5 separate regions of the Homo sapiens genome follow, and all the other regions are linked to region 1. Evidence: fine-mapped expression QTL. A gene starts in region 1. Each other region holds a variant in brackets. All regions are shown on one strand. Distances are from middle to middle.

Region 1 (4,144 bases):
CTGGAAGGTGGCATGGACTTACTTTGAGAAGGCTCACCCAGTCCTGCCTTTGTGGAAATGAGGGAACCCAGGCCCAGGCAGCCTCAAAGCCCGACTGCAGAGACAGTAAGTGCGATGCTGCCTGCAAATCCAGGTCCTCTGGCCACCTCTGTGGCCTTCCCTCCCCTCACTATACCACATTGCATCCACTAAAACACCAGTGAGGGACAGAAATTTGAAGGATGTGTTTTCTTTCTTTTTAAAAGAACTAGTCAATGGAGCCCAGAGCTGTCTATCTCTGGAGAAGAGCTGTCTGTGAGGCAGGTGTATACAGAAGAGAGAGAGAGGAAGGAAGAGAACGAGAGACTGCAGACAAATATGAACAGCAAGTGTCTCTCTTCAGCCCTCCCTGGAGCCAGGCCGTGCTTCTGCTCCTGACTTACAGTTGCTTCACTGTGCAGTGAAAGTCAGAGCTTGGCTCCCACGCCACGCACAGCAGAGTCCCATCCCCGCTTCTGGCATCTTTTCTCACTGTCCTATTACACAGACCCTCCATTCCGGCCACACACCGTACCCTGTCCCACTTAAGGACCTTGGCTCAGGCCCTTTCCACCACCTGGAATGCTCCTGCTACCCCCACAGGGCTGCCCAAATGCCTTTTCCATGAAGGACACCCCAACTGGAAGCAATTTTTCTTTTTCCTGGAATTCCGTACACTTAGCAGTTGTGCAAGCAGCTTTGCTAGACAGTTCCCTAACTTCAAGCCTTGTTCCTCCCGTAGATGGGTTAGGTCTCTGGATATTAGGGTCCCCAGAGTATTTATTTATAGTTCCAGTTCCCAGTATGGCGCCCTGTACTCTGCAGGCACCTGACCAATGGCTGTCAACCCAGGCGCACCAACCCTCCATATCAGAACGCTTCATACACAGCCTGCAGGAGGGACTAGCAGGGCAGAGGGACCTGCTTTGCCCAATAGTGGAAGTCACAGGACATTTCTCAACATCATTCACGATAAAAACATCTTTTTTTTTTTTTCTGCGACATAGTCACTCACCCTCCACCTTCTTTCGGTAAATCCTCCATAAAACTACATAAGGAGAAATATCCCTTTGTTTTACATCCTCTGACTCAGATACTGAGCATTATTCCTTGGGGTCAGCGGTGGAGGTGGAGGTGGAGGTGGAGGGGAGGAAAGATCCCCTCGGGGATGCGGGGAAGAGGAGAGTATATTGTGGAGGGGCACGGCGTTTTGCTCTTTTTTTGTTTTTTTCCTTAAGATGGTCCTGGCTCACAGAAAGGCCACTACCCGGCAGGCGGGTGGGTCACTTCCTGTGGGCGCAGCGGGGCTACGACTTGACAGCTACAAACGTTCGACCCTCCGACTGCGCTCTCACCGGGTTCCCAGACCCAGGTGGTGGTAGTCGGGGGTGGGAGTGGCGGGAAGGGCGCCGTCTTAAGAACCATCTGCCCATCCTCAGGGCTTCGCGCCTCTGGGGAGGTGGCCCTCAGCCGCCCTCGGCAGAGCTCTCCCCGAAACATGGTGCCGCGTCTCAGCGCTCCGGCCCCCGCGTGGCTCTACGACAGCGGGGTCCCTCTGGGGGCCGCGGGTGAGGGACTCCACCTTCCGCACGGACGACGTGGGCTCGCCCGGCTCCGTCGGCGGCATGAAGGGCACGGCTTGAGGGAAGCTCCCGAGGGCGCGATGGGCCTCCCGAGGGCCGACCGTGCCCCGCCGGGGTACGTGAGGGGCGCAAGGCGTGGAGCTGGGTCCAGACCCGTCCTGGCTCCTCCCCGGGCCCCTTCTCCACAGCCCCTTTCTATCAGCCCTGGCCGCCCCTCCGGCCTGGCCCAGCGCCGCGCCCTCCTTCCCCGAACTCCGCGGCCCGGGCGGAGGTGTCACTCCCGCCTCCAGTCACGACGGCGGGCCAGGTTGTGCAACACGCGCCGCGCGATGTGCCACCCACCCCCCCCGTATTCCACACCGCAACTCCCACCGCTCCGAGGGTCCTCCCCAGGCGCCGCGATATCTGTGCCCAAGGCTCTGAGCCCCTCTAAGCCCGCGGCGCGGACTTCCTGCCTCCCCAGCCCGGGCGCGTAGTCCCGACCGTCCGGCCCTCCGCGACCTTGCCCCGCGTCCGCAGCATCCTGGCGGCTACCGCTCCCCACGTCGAGTCTCACCGGCTGGGAGCAGACCAGCGCCCGGTGGTCCAGGAGTCGCAGGGAGGCGCCACCCGGGGCCAGCACGCCCAGGAGCAGCAGGAGCAGCCCCAGCAGGGGCCCCGGGACAGCGGACGGCGGGCTGCGTGCGGCCCCCATGGCCCGGCTGGCGTCGCGGAGGGCTCGGCCCCGGCTGGGGACGCAGCGAACGAACGTTCTGAGGCTTTCTTTTCCGCGGTGGAGTTCGAGTCGGCTCCACTTTGCTCGCTTCCGGCTTCCAGCCCGGGCCCAGGGGCGGGCCGGGCCGAGGGGAGGAGTTTAGTCTGGGACGGGGAGGGGTTTAGGGTGAGACAGGGCCCTCCCCCCGTTCCTCCTTGCGCCCCTCCTCTCGGCCCTACGCTCAGTCCTCCGGGCGTCCCTACCCAGTCCTTCCGGCGTCCCTCCCCGGCCCTCCTCCGCCCGCGCGCCCCAGGTGCGCTCCTCCCGCTGCTCCTGGGCCTGGCCCGTCGCGCCTCCAGTTGCACCCGCGTCGGGCTAGCGTCAACTCCAGCTGGAGCCTCGCCTGCCCCACATGCACCCTCCACCCTGGCCGTGCCGCAGCAACTGTCGATTTTAATCCTCCGCCCCCACTCACTTGATTCTTGGCCCTGTTCAGACTTCTTGCTTCTCTTGTGGGTCACTGGACGTGAAATCCCAACTTGGGATTTCAGGAAGTCCGTTTTCTTAGTCTCTGTCCCTTTTATTTTTGTTTTTTATTTTACTTTATTTTTAGACAGGGTCTCCCTCTGTCTCCCAGGCTGGAGTGCAGTGGTGCAACCGCAGCTCACTGCAGCTTCGGCCTCCCGGGCTCAAGCGATCCTCCTGCCTCTGCCTCCTGAGTAGATGGAAGCGCGGGCCATATCCCATTTTATTGTCCCCACCCCTTTGCCTGGTTCTGCTCGCTCTGCTTTCCTTGGCTTTGCTTTCTCTTTCTCAAGACAAGGACAGCTCCGGGCTCCAGGGAGGATGGGACAGCAGTCACTTCCAGCCTCCTGGCTCGGACTCGGGGACACTTGAGTTCCTGGAGGGCAGGCAACTTACCTGGTCTGTGAGACTGTGTCCCAGCCGCACCTAAGAGAGTCGTTACTTCCCAGAGGCTCACTCCACGGCCGCGGAAGCTGTCGCCAGCGAATTACACATTTCATGAGTCTCCTTCTTAGCACGCGTGCAGCCTGCGTCCTCTCCTCTCCGGACCCTGGAGGACCCTCCCAAGCCGGCCCGCGCTGCCTCTATCCTAGGTTCCTGCTTCGAGCCCGTCCTGCCCTAGTGCATCCACACGCTCCTGCCCATTCGCCTCTCCTCTCTTCCTCCCAAGACCACCACCGTCCGCTTTTCCTTGCCTATCAAGTGCGCCTCTGCCTGGCCTTGACACGCACGGAGTCTACACTCAAGTGGCTTTTCCCTGTATTTTCCACTGCCCTCGAGAGGTGGGTTTTTTCGCTGCCCGAAGCACCCGCTGACCCCCAGCGACATCTCTATGAGCCCCGCCCGCAGACACGACCCAGCTGAATGAAGCCTGAAGCTCAGTGGCCTTCAAATTGTCTGTTTCTAAAAGAATTTTGGAAAACTGCATCCTCTCATGCATTTTAAAGATGACATCTAAAATTCTCCATCCTAAGTCTAAATAGATGTAGAGGATGTAACTGTTACTTAAAAATCAGCGGTTGTCGTAGGCAGCTTCTAAGATGTGTTCTAGGATCCCACCCCCTGGGAGTCACGACCTTCTGAATCCTCCTCGCGGAGTGTGGGATGGACCCAGAGGCTTGGTTCTAACAATAGAATATGAATAGAAGAAGACAAAAATGATGGGATGTCACTTACAAGATTAAGTTACAAAAAGATCCTGACTTCTGTCTTGCCCAGCCCCTCCCTCTGAGCTCCTAGCTCTTAGGGAAGCCATGCTGGGGCCCAAGTGGCAGAGAATGAGAAAGGCCTCTGCCCAGTGCAAGACACTGAGATCTTCATTTCA
Region 2 (4,144 bases), 30 kb before region 1:
GCTTGGAGCAGAAGACACCCTTGTAGACAGACATAAGAGGGGCAGAAGGCTTGACCAGAGTTCTCTTGAGCCTCCTCATGCTCTCAGAGCAGGGAACAGCGGGGGAAAATGTTTACACTCCATGCACAATCTGTGCTTCCAGTCCCTCACCCTATGTGGCCCAATAGCTGGCTGGATTTCACACTTAATTGGTATTTTTTTCTGCCTTCTTCCCCTGCCCCCACTGACTCCTCTCCTCTCCCTTTGATTGTACTCAAGGTTCTGGGGCCTGGGCCCTGGGTGGGTACCAACAGCTGCTCGCTGTTCCCATGTCCTCTCTCCAGCTTTGCTGTGTTTCTCTGCTACCTAATCTCAGTGACTGTGAAAGGACATTGTGTCTGAGCCATGGCCAGCCGCTGGCTGGCCCCCTGATCTGCCCCCCTTCTATTGTTTGGATGGCCATCTCCTGCTGGGCCTCCCTGACTGTAAAATCTCTGTACTGTTTGTTAGGTTTTTGGTGGGAGGCTGTGATAAGTTCCAATGAGCTGCCACTTCCCTGGATATGTCAAGAAGCTGATGGCAACTTGGCCAATTCTGGCAGATATCAGGCCCCCAGTTCAGCCCCAGTCACCCTCTTTTACACATGTGGGTCAACCACTGTGTGCTCAGAGGGTCAGTCCCTTCCTCTGCTGTGTTTTTCTTGAGTCCTTGCACTCACTTCCCCTGCCCCAGTCACGATGACCCCTAAAGCTTCCTTTGCCCTTGCTTTCTAGGGCATCCCTAGTGAAGGGGCAAACCTGAGATTTCTCCGTGGACCTGACAGCCAAGGCAGGGCACTGTCTCCTGAGGCCAGTGCCAGCACGTGCATGGTTCACAGAAAAGGATCCTGGGCTCAGAATCTCGAGAACCGCCTGCTCCTAACAATTCAGCAAGTCAGGGGCTTCCTCTCTGTTAGTCCCCAAATCCTTACTTATTTTAAAAAGACTAGACCCTCTCTAAAGACTGTTCCATTTTAACATGTCCTGATTCTGCATCCGTGGGTTTTGTGAAAGAGAGCTAGCTGGCGGTTAGAGCCTGGAAGAAGGAGGGAAGTGGCACCTCACTAGCATTTATCACTTTTTTCCTTCTCTTTTTAAAAATAAAACCAGACTCTGTTCTGAAAATAAAAAACTTGAGACTTGTGACAAGCTTCCTGTGTGGTTTGTTTTAAGATCTTTTCTGTCCTGGTTTCCTTACAAAATTCTTAAATGTCACTGTGACATTCGCCATTATTTTATAAGTTTGTGTTAACATTATGGGTACACCTTGGCCCTTCTAGGCAGTTGGCATGTTTTTCAGGGAGGCAGTGAAGCTGTGGCCTGGAGCTGGTGAGTGTCTTGACATGCTTTGTTGGCACAGCCAGCTCAGCTCTAATGGACTCAGCCTGAGAACGATTTTTTCTCATCACCCTCGGCTCTCTCTCACTTTTCTTTCCTTCCTTCTTTCTTTTTCTTTGTTTTTGAGACAGGGTCTCACTCTGTCACCTGGGCTGGAGTGCAGTGGCGCCATCATAGTTCACTGCAGCCTCAACCTCCTGGGCTCAAACAATCCTCCTGCCTCAGCCTCCCAAGTAGCTGGGACTACAGAAGTGTGCCACCACGCCCGGCTTCCCATTTCTTTCTAAAAGAGTAGCTTTCCAAAGGGGGAACATCTTGAGAAACTAATTTTTAAATACTGTGCCCTCCTCTATCACTCTTGCCCCAGCCAGAAGCACAAATTCTTACGTATGAATAAGAAGAACAAGGCCATGGGTTTTTGTTTGGTTTTATTTTAACATGAAGGGTAGTATTAAGTCTAAGCAAGAACACTGGGCCTGCACCAAAATAAACAAACACACAGTGATTTTTTTTTTTTCTTAGCACAGAGGCAGCCAGTATTACACAGCCCCTCTCTGTGTTGTGACCCTAGCTTGCTGCTTCTGGCTGTGCCAAATGCTAAGCAGGCGTTTCACTCAGGGCAGCCCGGGAGGCAAGGTCTGAGAGTGGAAGCTCCTGGGAGCCTGAGCTCTC[T/C]CTGCCTCTCGTTAGCTGTGGCTTTGGCCATCAACTGGAACTATGTCATTATTTATAAAACAGGAGCAATCACAGGGCTGTGGTGAGAATCACATGAGGTGACACATGTGAAATGGTCCTTTCCCCTAAGACATATATAATTGTAACAAGGAACAAAATTTACATAGAAAATAATTACAGAACAACGTAGGACCATGTCTTCATTTCTCCCTGGAGCGGATGTAAAATAAGGTGATTGATTTGAGCAAGCATGTTATGAATATTTAGAAATGTCTTCTAGGGAAGCAAGCTGGCGCTCACCGATTTTGGTTTGCCAGGCATATCAGAAGGCACTTTGTGACAGGTGCAGTAGGGACGCGGAGTGATCTCTTCACGTGTAGGCAATGCCCAGCCCACACCTAGGCCTTGCCTGAGTCTGGCCATGCAGTTCTTGCCCTAAGGAAGAACAGGAAAATATAGCGCGTGGTTGACTGTCAGGCCCTCTGCCCCTTCCCTCGTCACAGCCACCTTCAGGGCTGCTTTCTCTCCATTTTCCTGAGGCCGAGAAAGAGGAGGTAGCTGGCACAATGCCACATTGCAGTCAGGAAGAAAAGCCAGTGTGCACCAAGGCCCTTCTTCCTCCCACATCTGCACTGCTCCAGGCAACCTTCGGTAGTCGGCTGTTGCTTGGGTCCAGCTTCCTTTCCATGAAAGCTCAGCCATTCTAGCAAAAAAGCAGGGGCTGTTTTCATCTTCTGAGAGAATCCCATGACACTGGTGAGCAGAGGCGGCCAGTGGGACACCCGTGCAGGGAAGCAGGCAAATGCAGGGACCAGCCACCCGCATCCCTCCTTTCTACTCCCTCTCCTCCTCCTACCTGGTCACTGTGTACCTTCTTCCTGTCTCATCAGAGAGGAAGGATCCAGTGAGCGAACTCATCTTATAGTCAATGACCTAAGGGGTTATTCCTCCTGGGAAGGACTCCAGGGGGAGGTGGGCTGGGCCAGGCTTCCTGGCACACTTCAAACCATGAGACAGGAGACTGCATGTTCCTCCCACAGGCAAGACTGGCCCACCCGGGTGACTGCCTGCTTTCATCAACCTAAATGGACAGGGCGAGAGTGTGGACCCAGTGCTAGGATCTGGGAGAGGCGATGGGGCATGGAGAGCCATGCAGAGGTGGAGGGCAAGATGGACCTGGATGCCATTTCAGAGTGAGGGGAGGCCCCGTGGGGAAAGCGTCGGGTACAGAATTAACATGAACAGCTTGTGCAATGGGTTTAGGGGTAGCTGCTTTTCTTCATATTCTTCTATAAAATATACCCATGGAATCCATATTGTTGCCATTTTTCCACAATGGACATGTTCACTCAGCCAAGTACTTCCTGAGCTCCTGAGAGACGCCAAATATGGGAACACATATTACTTCTATAATCTGAAAAGGCAAACACCGGAGGAAGAGAGCAATACCTAATAGCAGGGAAAGAGGATCAGTGGTACCTCAGGGGGCACAAACTGCTCTGCCCCAGAAGCAGGCTGGTGCCACTCGGGGATACTGCAGGCTTGCCAGGACCCCATGAGGTGGGAACTCCTGCCCCACCCACTTTACAGATGAGCAAGCTACCTAGGGCGGACGAGCAGCTGGCCAGCCCCCAACCCTGCTGCCTCTTCTTTGTAAGGATCCTCTGTCCGACACAGTTGACTTGTGGGATGCAGGCCCGGCTGCTGGAGCAGCGGCCCTCCATCTCACTCTGTCCTCAGGTGCCCCGGGCCTTGCTGGAGTCCCAGCTGGCAGGGCGCTAAGGCAGAAGAGGGCCCTGCATACACCTCATTTATTTAGGAAGGGGAGCACCAACCACAGAGCCCAAAGGCTATAGAGTTAAAACCACCCACTGCATTGTAAGTACATCTTCTTCTCTCTTATGCCCTATTTAATTTTCAAAGATAAACAGGAAAGGCCAGGCACGGTGGGCTCAGGCCTATAATCCCAGCACTTTGGGAGGATGAGGCGGGCAGATGGCTTGAGCCCAGGAGTTCGTGACCAGCCTGGACAACATGGTGAAACCCCATTTCTACAAAATATATACACACAAATTAGCCGGGCACAGTGGTGCACGCCTGTAGTTCTAGCCACTGGC
Region 3 (4,144 bases), 72 kb after region 1:
CCTTTGGGCTTCAAATGTTGTACTACGTGCTTGACCCACTAGCCTGCTTAATCTTCAAAATCACTCTATCAAAAAGACATTTTAGGCTGGGCCTGTAATCCCAGCACATTGGGAGACCCAGATGGGCTGATTACTTGAGTGTATGAGTTACAGACCAGTCTGGGAAACATAACAAGATCCTGTCTCTACAAAAATAGAAAAAAATAGAAAAAAATTAGTGGAGTGCTGTGGCACATGTCTGTAATCCCAACTACTTGGGAGGCTGAGGTGGGAAGATTGCTTGAGCCTGGGATGTCGAGGCTGCAGTGAGCTGAGATCATGTCACTGCACTCCAGCCTGGGCAACAGACTGAGACCCTGTCTCAAAATAAAAATAAAAATAATTAAAAAGGGAAATTGCCGAAATCATTTAACCAATAAGATGAGCACCTACCTATCAGGGACAATAAAAGTTTAAAGGGGCCAACAATTATGAAGGCAGTATTGAATTCACTTGAAATATGAAGAACACCACATTGGGTGAATTTAGATAGGAAGGCCAAGGAGATATTCCTAGGAATATCATTATATATGGAAAACACTGAAAAAAGACACTGCAGTGTTTGAGAAAATAATGGCCATAGAAACAGATTTCATGGACCTTCCAGCTTATGAAAAAATCAACTGAAATTGCTCAACATTAGGTTAGAACATTAAAAAGGAAAAATAAGCCATTATAGAAGGAGAGAATTGGAATAGGGGACAGGAATGACCCATTTCCCAGTCTCTGCCTAGAACAGGGCTGGGGAAAAATCTGTGGTCATCATATTCACCATTGCATAAACACATATTTTTTCTATATGTCAGCAAGGAGCAAGTGCTACCAAGACAAGGCAAGGAAAAGGAATAGAGAATATTGCTGGGTGCTTTTCTGTAGGGTGATCAGGAAAGGCCTCACTGAAAAAGAGACATTAGAGCAGAGCAAGTGAGAGAGAGAGAGTCATAGAGAGATCTGTGGGAAGAGCATTCCACGTGAGGGCAACAGACACTGCAAAGGCCCCGAGGCAGGGAGTGCTTGGCATGTCTGAGGAGCCAGAAAAAGGCCAGTGGAGCTGGAATGGAGTGAGTGAGGAGTAATAGGGGCAGAACACATACGGCCTTAGAGATCATGGCTCTAGGTGTTTTATTTTCCAATTTTTAAAATTGTGTTAAAATACACATAACATAAACTATAGTAGTTTAACCTTGCTTAAGTGAACAGTTCAGTAATATTAACATTCATATGGTTGTGCAACCATTACCACCATCCATCTCCAGAATTCTTTTCAACTTGTAAAACTGAAACCCTCTGTCATTAAACAATAGCTCTCTGTTCTCCCTTCCACCCAGCCCCAGGCAAGCACCATTCTACTTTCTGTCTGTATGCATTTGACTATTCTTGGGACCTTATAACAGCAGAATCTATGGTATTTGTCTTTTCTGACTTATTTCACTTACTCTAATATCTTCAGGGTTATTTTAATATTATTTGTCAGAATTACCTTCCTTTTGAGAAATGAAGAATATTCCATTATGTGTATAGACCACATATCCATTCATCTGTCATGGACATTAGAGTTGTCTCCACATTTAAGCTATTAGTGAATAATTCTGCTATGA[C/T]CATAGATGTACAAATACTTCTTTGACTCTGCTTTGAATTTCTTTGTGTAGACACCCAGAAGGGAAGTGCTGGATCATGTGAGCCTCCAACCCACTGTCTGCAGTTGTCCTTGCGCCTCCACTCCGCTGTCCCCAGAGCTGTCATTGATGTTCCACCCTACTATCTTGGAGCTGGTTTGAGTCTGCACCCTGCTGTTCTTGGAGCCTAGAAAGCCCACCAGGCCTGGCCAAACTCCACCCCTCCCTTGGTCTCTCCTCCCAGGCATCAGCACTTTGGAAAAGCCATTATGCACCTTTTAATATCTACGAAAGGTGCCTCAGGAAGGCATGGAGAGGTCACCACTTCCAGGTTATGGTGTCTCACCTGTGTCCACTGGCCCCATGCTGGCCCTTTAAGGGGTAAGAGCAGAACAGGCTGGGAGACTACACCTCTTTTCTCAGAGTGGCTATAGATAAAGCCAGAAAGGGGACAGGAGAATGTGGTGCTGTGGGCAGGATGCTGAGGGCAGAGGCCCCTCCCCACAGGTGCTGAGCAGGTCGGGCAAGGAGGAGCTTCCAGCCTCCATCCAGGCAGGACTTCTGACCACTGCTAGAGGCCCCTTCTCAGGAGGTCCTGTCCCAGCCAAGGGCCAGCTCCAGAGACTTTTGTCCATCTTCCCTAAGATGGACACGATGCAGGTGGCTGTGTCTGGGCCCTAGAAATTTCAGGACTGAGCCATGGTGAAGACAGGAGGGGATTGTGGGCCCTGGATGTCCCTGTGCAGCCCATGCCTCTAGCTTGGACCATTCACCGCCCAGGTACCTCCTCGCTAGGTCTCCAAGCCCCAGTGGTCATGTGACAGGCCATGGGGCAGGGCTGGGATGGGTTCAGGGCTCCATGTGCTTCCTGAGAGGGCTGAAGGGTTGCATCCCTCCAGAGCAGCCCAAGGCATAGTAGCCACTGCTACCCCACTCAGTCTCGGTGAGCAGGCTTGTCGGGGATGTAGGGGCCTGGTCCTCCAGTGGCAGGTAGGCAGGCAGCGGTGCCTCTCACTCCTCACACTCTGCTGGCAGCATATCCTCCAAACTTGGGGCCCCTAGGAGGTGTCCCCATGCCCTCCTGCTCTCCTCCAGGCTGACAGATTTCCAGGGACATGCTGAGTCACAGGTGAGTACTGCAGTGGCCTCTCGCACACTGAATTCCAAGGCTCCTTGCGAGGTGCTGGCACAGTCCTGGCTCAGCTGCACGCTGGCCCTGTGGGCCCCCATCCAGGTTAGAAGCAGAGTATGGGATGAGGAAAGGGATCAGGCAGCATGATCAGAACTCACCCTGGGAGTGGCAGCCTCCTCCTCAGCAAGCCCTCCCTCCTCCTCCAAGAAGCCCTCCTGATGTCCACACCCAGAGGCCAAGCAGCACCTGTGCCAGGAGCATTCTGTCTTCCTTACTATGTGCCAGCTCAGCCTCAACATGGGACCCTGAGTCTCTTCAAGTCCCCTCACTGCTCCCCTAGCACAGAGCCTGGTGCTCACAGCAGCCTGCACCAGGGTACAGATGGTGACATGTGCTGAGGAAAAAACAAACACTTGGCAGCATGCAGCATGTGTCCCAGGGCCTTTCAGCAGCTACAGAGACTGGGTACCCCCACCTGAACAATTTTCTCTGTCTCTCTCTCTCACACACACATAGCATGACGGACAGGTGACACGAAGACTGGTGACTTTCAAGGTGCTTGGGAAAGGCCAGCAGACCTGAATCCTTCTGTGGGGACACAGGAGACCTCTGCTTCCAAAAGGAAGCTCTTCCCTAGGTGGGACCAGAAGTATCCATCCAACACGCCACACACACACCACACCCTCCATCACTGCACTGCTCCCTGCCAGACCCTCACCCAAGGCCTAAATAATCCCTGGCAGATGCCCTGGTTCTATAGAGAAGGGCTGGTGTCTGCAAGGGGATGACACAGGCCAGGGTACGATCACAACCTCTGCCCCGCTCAGACTTGTCCTCAGCTGCCCAGGCTCTTGACAGTCACATTTGCCACTGTGAGGAAAGATGGGAAATCTGCCAAGACCCAAGTGCTCAGTTTTAAGCTTTAAATTATATTTTTGAACAACAATCCTAAGAACTGGGCTTCCTGTTGAAAGGGAAAATGATTTTTCTACATAATATGCTGGCAATACTGTGTGGAGGGGATATCTCTGCTGCACAGGGTCCAGGGAAGCCCTGCAGCACCAGGAAAGGAGATCCTGGTGTCACCCTACAAGGAAGAAGCTGAGACAAAGTTAATCTTAGTAGAGAGTTTATTTGAGACAAACTTCAGGATTGCAACTCTGGAGCATAGATTCAAGTTATCCTGAATATACACTGCAATTAGCAGCAGTTATGAGCTGATTTTTAAAGGCAAAACAAGGTGGGCAGGGAAGGGGCAGATACAATTCCTCAGGAATTTTAGTTGGTTCATAGCAATAACACTGCTTAGTGATGGGCCGTACACTGTTAAGCTATAGGGTGTGGGGTATGGCGTCTG
Region 4 (4,000 bases), 22 kb before region 1:
GACAGCGGACCTGCCAGTCCCGGAACCTGTCCAGGGCGGCGCGGAGCTGCCTGCCGCCCGGGCTCCGCAGGTAGTTGTCCCCCGACAGCTCCCCTACGCGGTGCATGCGGCCCGGCTGGAACATCTCCAGGTCCTGGATGCGGAAGTACACCTCCTCGAACCTGTCCATGAGCGGGTACCGCGGCGCCGCGCCGAACAGGTCGGGGACGTCGCCGTCACAGCTGACCTCGCTGAAGTAGCAGACTACGTAGGTGCCGAAGCAGGCTGGCCTCTTGAAGTCCGGGAGGATCATGTTCATGGCTGCAGTGAACAGGTCCCCCACGGGCTTTCCGTGGTCGCAGCGCAGCCGCACAGGCGCCCCCCGGCCCAGGAGCGCCTGCCACTTGGCGCGCGTGCCGCGGGAGCACAGGACGATGATCTTAGAGTTGCTCTCCACCATCTCCTGCTTCTGACGGCCCACCCAGGTCATGACTCCTGCCTCCGAGATGGCCTGCTCTTCCAGCAGGTCCAGGGCCACTTCCGTGCCGCAGGCGGTGAGCAGGAACTGGGCGAATTTCAGGACCACGTCCACGTAGAGGGGGTGGTCGGCTGAGTAGATGATCCAGACCTTCCTGGGCTTCAGCGGTGGGGGGATCAGGTCAGCCGCAGGCAGGCCATCTAAGGAAACAAGACCACACATGCTGACCCTCACCCCAGGGCCCAGGGCAGCTCTGTGCCTGCCAGCCCAGGAGGGGCCTGGACCAGGACACAGAGCTTGGCTCCCTCCCTAAGCTGAGAAACCCAACTGAGGCCTGTTGGAAAAACCCAGATGTTACTATTCCACCTTTGGCTGCCTGAAAAAAATCAGTCTGCTGCCTTGTGGGAAAAAGAATCTCTCAACGTTCCTAGCTGGTCTTTAGCCTATACTTTAATTAAGAAAAGAAAAAGAGGCACCAAGCTCTGTTGGTCTGCTCCAGGGAGGACCTCTGTTCACAAAATACTTACCTTTCTTTCCTTGTCTGAGTGATTCAAAAAATGGCACCCAGGCCTTGTTATTGGGGGCCCTTCTGAGTGGGGTACTGGAAGGGGGTTTCTAAGGTGGGGTCTCCTGAAGGGACTTGGGAGTTAGAGCACAGGAGGCGACCCACGCACTTATCCCAGGAGAACCCTCCACTGCTTTAAAAATAAGCAAACATGCAAACCAGGAAATACTGACCGGTGTATTTGGTGTCATCACTGTATTTTTCACTTCCAGGCCCTGGAAAGGAAAAGAAATACACTGGAGTGGTTCTTTGGGAAGAGAAATAGAAACCAGCTCACAGGGTGTCTGCCCCATCCCTGACAAAGGGTGAAGGGTAAGGGGGCAGCCCCGAGACTGAGCAGCGAGGCCGTGCTAGGTGGTCGCACAGGCATGAGTCCTGGGTCTGCCACTACGAGCACTATGACCTGGAGCAGTTACTAGTGCCTCTGAAATGCAGCTTCTTCCTCTGTGAGGTGGGTCTGTATTTGCTCTTGTTTAATGGGTATTAAATGAGTGTGTGTATGTGACGTGCCTGGCACGTTGTACATAATCAATTGGGATCACAGTTATTTTGTAGCACTGATCCAGCTGGGACCCCCAGTGCCGGGGGGCAGGGGGTGGTGTCCATTCTGGTTCCTCATTACGGTCCTGGTCTGCCCTGTCTCCCTGAAATTTGGCCACCCCAAACTGACTCCACATGAGGAAAAGCTCTTCCCCAGAAGTGTCTTTACAGAAGACATGCATCTTACCACACTTCTTTCCAGAAGCAGCCCCACCAGGCTGCTTGCAACATTTCCTCCTGGTATTTTTGAGGTGAGGAAGGGGAACCCACATACTTAAGCAATTGTTCCCCTCAGAGATGTGATGAAAAAACTGCTCTGCGGGGGTTAACTCCTTAGTGACAGCTGGGAGGATTGAGATCCACAGATGACTGAGCAAACGACTTAGAACCTTAATCTCAATCCTAACCCTTTCAGCTCTTCCCCAGAACTGTCACAAGACAGCCAAATAACAGCGAGGCTCCTCTTGCCTTCACCCTGTGGTGCAGGACACTTCGGAAAACAGAAGCGCAACAGCAGAAAGGAAACCAAAAGCGCCGCCGCC[GCCC/C]AGCCCCAAACCTTTAGAGAGCTGCACCGCCTGTGGAGCACTGGCCGAGATGCTACTGAATGTTATTGGAACCTCCCATAGGTCCTCCCATGCCTGGCTGGTTTTCTTTCTACCACATAATAATTAATAATGATTAACACCTAATCCTGACGAGCCTAGGGAAGGGTGGAAACAGCTTCCCAGATGACGGAAGGAGCAGCCTAGGGTCATGGTGGGGCAGGCAAGGGCTGAAGCCCCAACCGGAAGGCCTGTGTTCTCCCGGCTTAGGACTTGGCCAGCAGAGGGCTGCAGGTGGGAGAAGACACTGGTATGTACTAATCCCCACCAGCAAGCACCTTCCTCAGCTACTCATTTAACCTTCGTCACACCCTTAGAGGGAGGCATTATCAGTACATTTTACAGAAAAGTGAATCCATGGTGTATTAAGTAACTGGCCTGTGACTACAAGGCTAATGAGGTGGGGCTGGGGTCCACCCCTGTGGCTCAGGGCAGCCGGAGCCTTCTCTATCACCCGATGCTGACCCTCACTATTCTCCCTGACCCCAGGCGTCCACGTCTGGCGGCTGCAGGATGGGGTTGTTCAGGCTGCTCCACCTGCCTGGATGATCATTCCTGACACAGGGAAACTTTACTCCGGCTCCTTCCAAACTATTGATTTTAATAATACTACATTTGATAACAACAAATATAATCGTGGCTAACAGATACTGTGCAAATAGCACATGCCAGGTTCTGTGCTAAGAATTCATGTGTCTTATTTCACTCAGTCCTTACAACAGCTTTATGACGTGGTTCTCAAGCAAGAAGCTGAGGCTCTGAGAATAAAGCGATTTGCCTTGGTAGTGAGTGGTGGTGCTGGTATTAGAGCCTGACTCCAGGACAGCCAGAGCCCCAGCGCTTACCAGCTAGCCTCCAGGTCATGCAGACGATGAGCAGGATGACGGAGCCCACCAGCAGGATGGAGATGCCCGTGATGAACCAGTACACCCACAGGGGCATGTAGTCTGCGGTGAGCAGAACAGCGTGAGTGATGCGGCGGGGCCTGCCCTGCCCACCCTGAGGCCCCCAGCCCTGCTCCCCAGCCCCAGGCTCTGTCCTCTCTGGCCCCACCACGACAAACCATGGTCTCACCCCCCACCCCGGGCTGGCCTCGGTTCAGCCTTGTCTGCCTGGCTGAGGCAGGGACTTCTCAAGTGGCCACTGGGGAATGTCCCCTGAGGGCTGCAGTGCTGTCGGAGAGAGATCCAAGCTTACCCGGAATTGGTTCTGCAATGAGAACAGAGGAAAAAGGGAAAATAGCATTCTTAACCCTTCCCAGTCATCACAAGAAACACAACTGACGTCCCTTGAGGGCTTTAATGATGTTGGCCCTGCACCAGGCACTCTAGATCCAGGTTGAACTTAATGAAACCATCTACAAGAGACACTTGAGTTGCTGGTCTAAGAAGAGACACCTTGCCTCCTCCTTGGGAGGCTGGGTTCTCCTTCCAGCCTGGCTCCATGCCTGCGCCTTGCCTTCTGGTGAGCACGTGGCTGCAGCCTCCCGTGCATTAGGGCATGCGACTTTTGAAAACAGCGTCCCTGCTGTGTGATCTTGGACAAGTTATTCAACATCTCTGTGCCTCAGTTTCCTTATCCAGGAACCTGGGGTTTGGGGTGGGGGGATCCTCTACTGCATAGTACCGTGACTCACAATGAGTGAGGATGAAAAAATGGACGGCATGTTGGAGCACTGCGCTCAGTGCATGGCACAGAACTAGGGCTCTAGGATAAAAACCACCTCATTTTCCAGTCAAGGAAGTTGAGAATCAAAAAGATTAAGTAATTTGCCTAAGGCTACATAGCTAATGAAAGACAGCCAGGAGTCCAGCCCCAGGGAGTGACACTCTAAAG
Region 5 (4,144 bases), 52 kb before region 1:
GGGAGGCAAGCGAAGGTCTTTTTCACACCTAGTGGCAATATGGTCAGCTGAAAATGGACACCAGCAAAGAAGGGGAGAAGCGCAACCGTAGTCTGCCTCAGCTCTACAGCAGGATTTAAGCTCTGGAGTCAGACTGAGTTGTAATCCTAGCTCTGCCCTCTTGAACAAGTTACTTAATCTTGCTGTGCCTTGGTTTCCTCGTTTTACAAATAGCGTCATCTCATAGAGTTTTTCTGAGAGGGAAATGTGAAATGCTGCCTCCAGTGCCTGCACAGTGTCTGCTACATGTCAGCTCTTACCCTGGGGAAAAGGCTGGTCTGTGTGTTTGCTGCTTAGACAGTGGCAGTCGTGTTCTCTAGAAGAGCCTGGAGATCAGGAAGACTGAACTGCTGCGTGCTCGTTTCTGGCAGGTTTGGACATGGCACCTTTCTGCTGTGCCTGGAAACCATTTACCAGAAAGTGACGGGCAAGGAGCTGAGATACGAGGGCCTGATGGGCAAACCCAGCATCCTCACTTACCAGTATGCCGAGGACCTGATCAGGCGACAGGCGGAGAGGCGGGGCTGGGCCGCCCCCATCCGGAAGCTCTATGCTGTGGGGTAGGCTCTGCTCTCCCTCCTTTGTCCCTTTTATGACATCCCCTTCTCTCCCTCCTCCTCTACTCTCACCCCCATTTCCCTATATCTAATTCACTCTTCTGCCCCGAAACTCTTCTCTGCTCCCTTTGCTTTGCAACATTGATTTAGGGTTTTTTCTCCTTTTTCCTTTTCCGGTGTGGCTGCCCCTGCCAGTGATAACCCTATGTCTGACGTATACGGCGCCAACCTGTTCCACCAGTACCTGCAGAAGGCAACGCATGATGGGGCGCCAGAACTAGGGGCCGGGGGCACACGGCAGCAACAGCCCTCAGCAAGCCAGAGCTGCATCTCCATCCTGGTGTGTACAGGCGTCTACAATCCCAGGAACCCACAGTCCACGGAGCCTGTCCTTGGAGGAGGGGAGCCTCCATTCCACGGGCACCGAGACTTATGCTTCAGTCCAGGGCTCATGGAGGCCTCCCACGTGGTGAATGACGTGAATGAGGCTGTGCAGCTGGTCTTCCGCAAGGAGGGCTGGGCTTTGGAGTGAGGGCAGTGCGGTGGAGGTGAGGGGGTGAGCCTGGACCTGTGGGCGAGTCCCATTGGCTGGGCTCTGGCCTGATCACTGGGCTCAGGTCAGGGCTTGGTTCCCTTGCCACCCTTCTTGCTGCCCCATGAGTGTGGCATTACTGGTCACTTGGAAGAAGACAGTGACTCTTTTTCCCTGCTGGGTAGCATTTTGTATGGAACGGTTGGAATTTTCTGGGCCCAGTTCCCACGTGCCTTTCGTGGCAGTCTAACCTCAGGCCATTCTCTTCCCCTGTGTGCCTCAGTGTCCTTCTCATTTCAGTAGGGACTTCTGAAATGGGGGAGGCAGTGTGGAATACTGTGGATGTCTGTGCAGAGCCTTTGCCGGCACTGAAGGCATGCAGCCTGTCGGCAGAGTGTCTTAACACCAGATGCTACTTTTTACTGTATTGTAGTTTATTGCCCGGAGATGTGGGGCTTTTTTTTTAAATAAAATAATCATAATAAATGTTCATGATGCTGACTCTTGTGAAGCTCTGTCTGGAGTGCACTAAAAGTCCTGTGGGGAAAGGAGGAGTGAGTGGTGTGGGCGGCCCAGGGTCTGGGAGATGGGTGGCATTTCAGCTCCACGAGGTGCCCACATCTCCTTTCCTACCTCCCGCCCCCAAGTCCACACCCATTCTGGGCTGTGAAGCCTGAGGCTGTCTATGAATGAGTATGCCTGGCTTTGGCATATACTTAGCAACTTCCCTGGTGTGGAAAAGAAGAGGGATCTTGTTACTGGTTTGTTCTAAAGGAAGCAGCTCTTCCTGCAGTGATTCTAGAAAACATGCCGCTTCTTGCATCCCTTCCTCTAGGAGTAACCAACTTCATTTCTTCATTTGTCTGTGTCACCCATGGCCTCAGCATCTGCAAATCCCCCAGTCAGTTCTCGTCCTCATTTTACTCCAGTAGCTGTTTGTGTTTGACATAGCTGATGCCTCCCTCCCTTGTTCTTTTTTTATTTTTTAGAGACGGAGTCTTGCTCTGTCACCCAGGTTGGAGTGCAGTGGCACGATCATGGCTCACTTGAACCTCCCGGGTTCAAGCAATTCCACCTCAGCCTCCTGAGTACCTGGCACTAGAGGCACATGCCACCACGCCTGGCTAATGTTTTTTTTTTTTTT[G/TG]GTAGAGACAGGGTTTCACCATGTTGGCCGGGCTTGTCTAAAACTCTTGGCCTCAAATGATCTGCCTGCCTTGGTGTCCCAAAGTGCTGGCATTACAGGTGTGAGCCTCCACGCCCGGCCTCCTTCCCTCATTCTTAAAGCCCTCTTGGCTCTCTCCACCTGACTACTCTTTTTTTTTTTTTTTTTTTTTTTTTGAGATGGAGTCTCACTCTGTCACCCAGGCTGGAGTGCAGTGGCATGATCTCGGCTCACTGCAGCCTCCACCTCCAGGTTCAAGCAATTTTTGTGCCTCAGCCTCCCGAGTAGCTGGGATTACAGGCGCCCGCCACCACGCCTGGCTAGCTAATTTTTGTATTTTTGGTAGAGACGGGGTTTCGCCACGTTGGCCAGGCTGGTCTCAAACTCCTGACCTCAAGTGATCCACCCTCCTTGGCCCCTCAAAGCGCTGGGATTACAGGCGTGAGCCACTGCTCCCGGCCTAACTGATTTCTTTTTTTTTTTTTTTTGAGACGGGAGTTTTGCTCTTGTTTACCAAGCTGGAGTGCAGTGGCATGATCTCGGCTCACTGCAGCCTCCACCTCCAGGTTCAAGCAATTTTTGTGCCTCAGCCTCCCGAGTAGCTGGGATTACAGGCGCCCGCCACCACGCCTGACTAGCTAATTTTTGTATTTTTGGTAGAGACGGGGTTTCGCCATGTTGGCCAGGCTGGTCTCAAACTCCTGACCTCAAGTGATCCACCCTCCTTGGCCCCTCAAAGCGCTGGGATTACAGGCGTGAGCCACTGCTCCCGGCCTAACTGATTTCTTTCTTTCTTTTTTTTTTTTTGAGACGGGAGTTTTGCTCTTGTTTACCAAGCTGGAGTGCAATGGCGTGATCTCGGCTCACTGCAACCTCCACCTCCCGGGTTCAAGCGATTCTCCTGCCTCAGCCTCCTGAGTAGCTGGCATTACAGGCACGTGCCACCACACCCAGCTAATTTGTTGTATTTTTAGTAGAAATGGGGTTTCACTGTTAGCCAGGCTGGTCTCAAACTCCTGGCCTCAGGTGATCCGCCTGCCTGACCTCCTGAAGTGCTGGGATTACAGGCATGAGCTACCGCGCCCGGCCCTCAGCTGATTTCTTGACACCTTTGCTTGGATGCCTCAGAGGTGTTTAGAGGTTAGGGAGCAAAGGAGGTTGAGAGAGTGGCTATGAAACAGGAGAGCCGGTGTCTTGGAGGCTGAGTGGCTGAGTGCTGAGGAGCTGTGCTCATTCCCTCGGTGTAAGTGTTGCTGTGTCCACGACCAGACACTGAGCGCAGTCCACACCTCCTGCTTAACTGTCTTCCCCAGCTTAGGTGGCTGCAGCAGCTCCTTCCTCTCCTTGTCTAGGCCGAGGGCCTGGCGTCCTGCTGAGCTCCTCTTAATTTCCCAAGTGAGCTCTGCTACCCACCACGCCCCGCCCCAACTAGGCCCCTGGCCTCACCTGAGCTGTTACAGCCACACTTCATGGCCTCCCTGCCTCCGCCCTTTTCTTTCCCACTTGCTCTGCTCACTCATTGGCAGATCACGTGGTCTGTTCTCTGATGAAAGCCCTCCAGTGACGTCTCAGTCAGAGCAAAAGCAGTGATTTCTTACCATGGCACAAATGCCTCTTCATCCTGTCCCACCGCTACCCCCGGGACCTCACCTGCTGCTTTCCCCATCATCATTCACACACGCCACCCTTCTCCACGTTCACTCCTGCCTAGGGCCTCTCGCAGCCCCTCTGCCGGGCCACGGTGTCCATGTGGCACATGCCATCCCTTCCTTTTCCTTTTTTTTTTTTTTTTTTGAGATGAAGTCTCGATCTGTGCCCCAGACTGGAGTGCAATGGCGAGGTTTTGGCTCAGTG

The links. PIP is the estimated chance that this variant, and not a neighbour inherited with it, causes the effect.
Region 2: its variant is fine-mapped to the expression of IL17RA in whole blood (INTERVAL, PIP above 0.99).
Region 3: its variant is fine-mapped to the expression of IL17RA in amygdala (GTEx, PIP 0.93).
Region 4: its variant is fine-mapped to the expression of IL17RA in whole blood (TOPMed, PIP above 0.99).
Region 5: its variant is fine-mapped to the expression of IL17RA in lymphoblastoid cells (GENCORD, PIP 0.95).

The regions. Positions count from the first base shown.
Region 1 is chr22:17,083,243-17,087,386 of GRCh38, reverse strand. It overlaps IL17RA (interleukin 17 receptor A), which reads right to left and starts at 2,387. Exons shown (of 13, transcript NM_014339.7): 1 at 2,158-2,387. The coding sequence starts at 2,295. RefSeq lists silencers at 1,605-1,854, 1,895-1,994, 2,245-2,364, 2,385-2,604 and an enhancer at 3,158-3,327.
Region 2 is chr22:17,113,316-17,117,459 of GRCh38, reverse strand. IL17RA (interleukin 17 receptor A) reads right to left here. Exons shown (of 13, transcript NM_014339.7): 13 at 1,767-4,144. TMEM121B (transmembrane protein 121B) reads left to right here. Exons shown (of 1, transcript NM_031890.4): 1 at 1-1,163. Among named protein-coding and RNA genes, the nearest start is that of TMEM121B, 6.0 kb to the left of the region's middle. The variant T/C (reference allele first, on the strand shown) is at 2,028.
Region 3 is chr22:17,011,151-17,015,294 of GRCh38, reverse strand. It overlaps the pseudogene IL9RP6. Among named protein-coding and RNA genes, the nearest start is that of GAB4, 5.0 kb to the right of the region's middle. The variant C/T (reference allele first, on the strand shown) is at 1,638.
Region 4 is chr22:17,104,964-17,108,963 of GRCh38, reverse strand. It overlaps IL17RA (interleukin 17 receptor A), which reads right to left. Exons shown (of 13, transcript NM_014339.7): 10 at 3,362-3,373; 11 at 3,010-3,111; 12 at 1,196-1,237; 13 at 1-657. Among named protein-coding and RNA genes, the nearest start is that of TMEM121B, 14 kb to the left of the region's middle. RefSeq lists enhancers at 808-2,007, 1,965-2,184 and a silencer at 2,954-3,154. The variant GCCC/C (reference allele first, on the strand shown) is at 2,105.
Region 5 is chr22:17,135,005-17,139,148 of GRCh38, reverse strand. It overlaps HDHD5 (haloacid dehalogenase like hydrolase domain containing 5), which reads left to right. Exons shown (of 8, transcript NM_033070.3): 7 at 411-599; 8 at 792-1,629. The coding sequence ends at 1,128. Among named protein-coding and RNA genes, the nearest start is that of LINC01664, 15 kb to the right of the region's middle. RefSeq lists enhancers at 97-803, 804-1,511. The variant G/TG (reference allele first, on the strand shown) is at 2,273.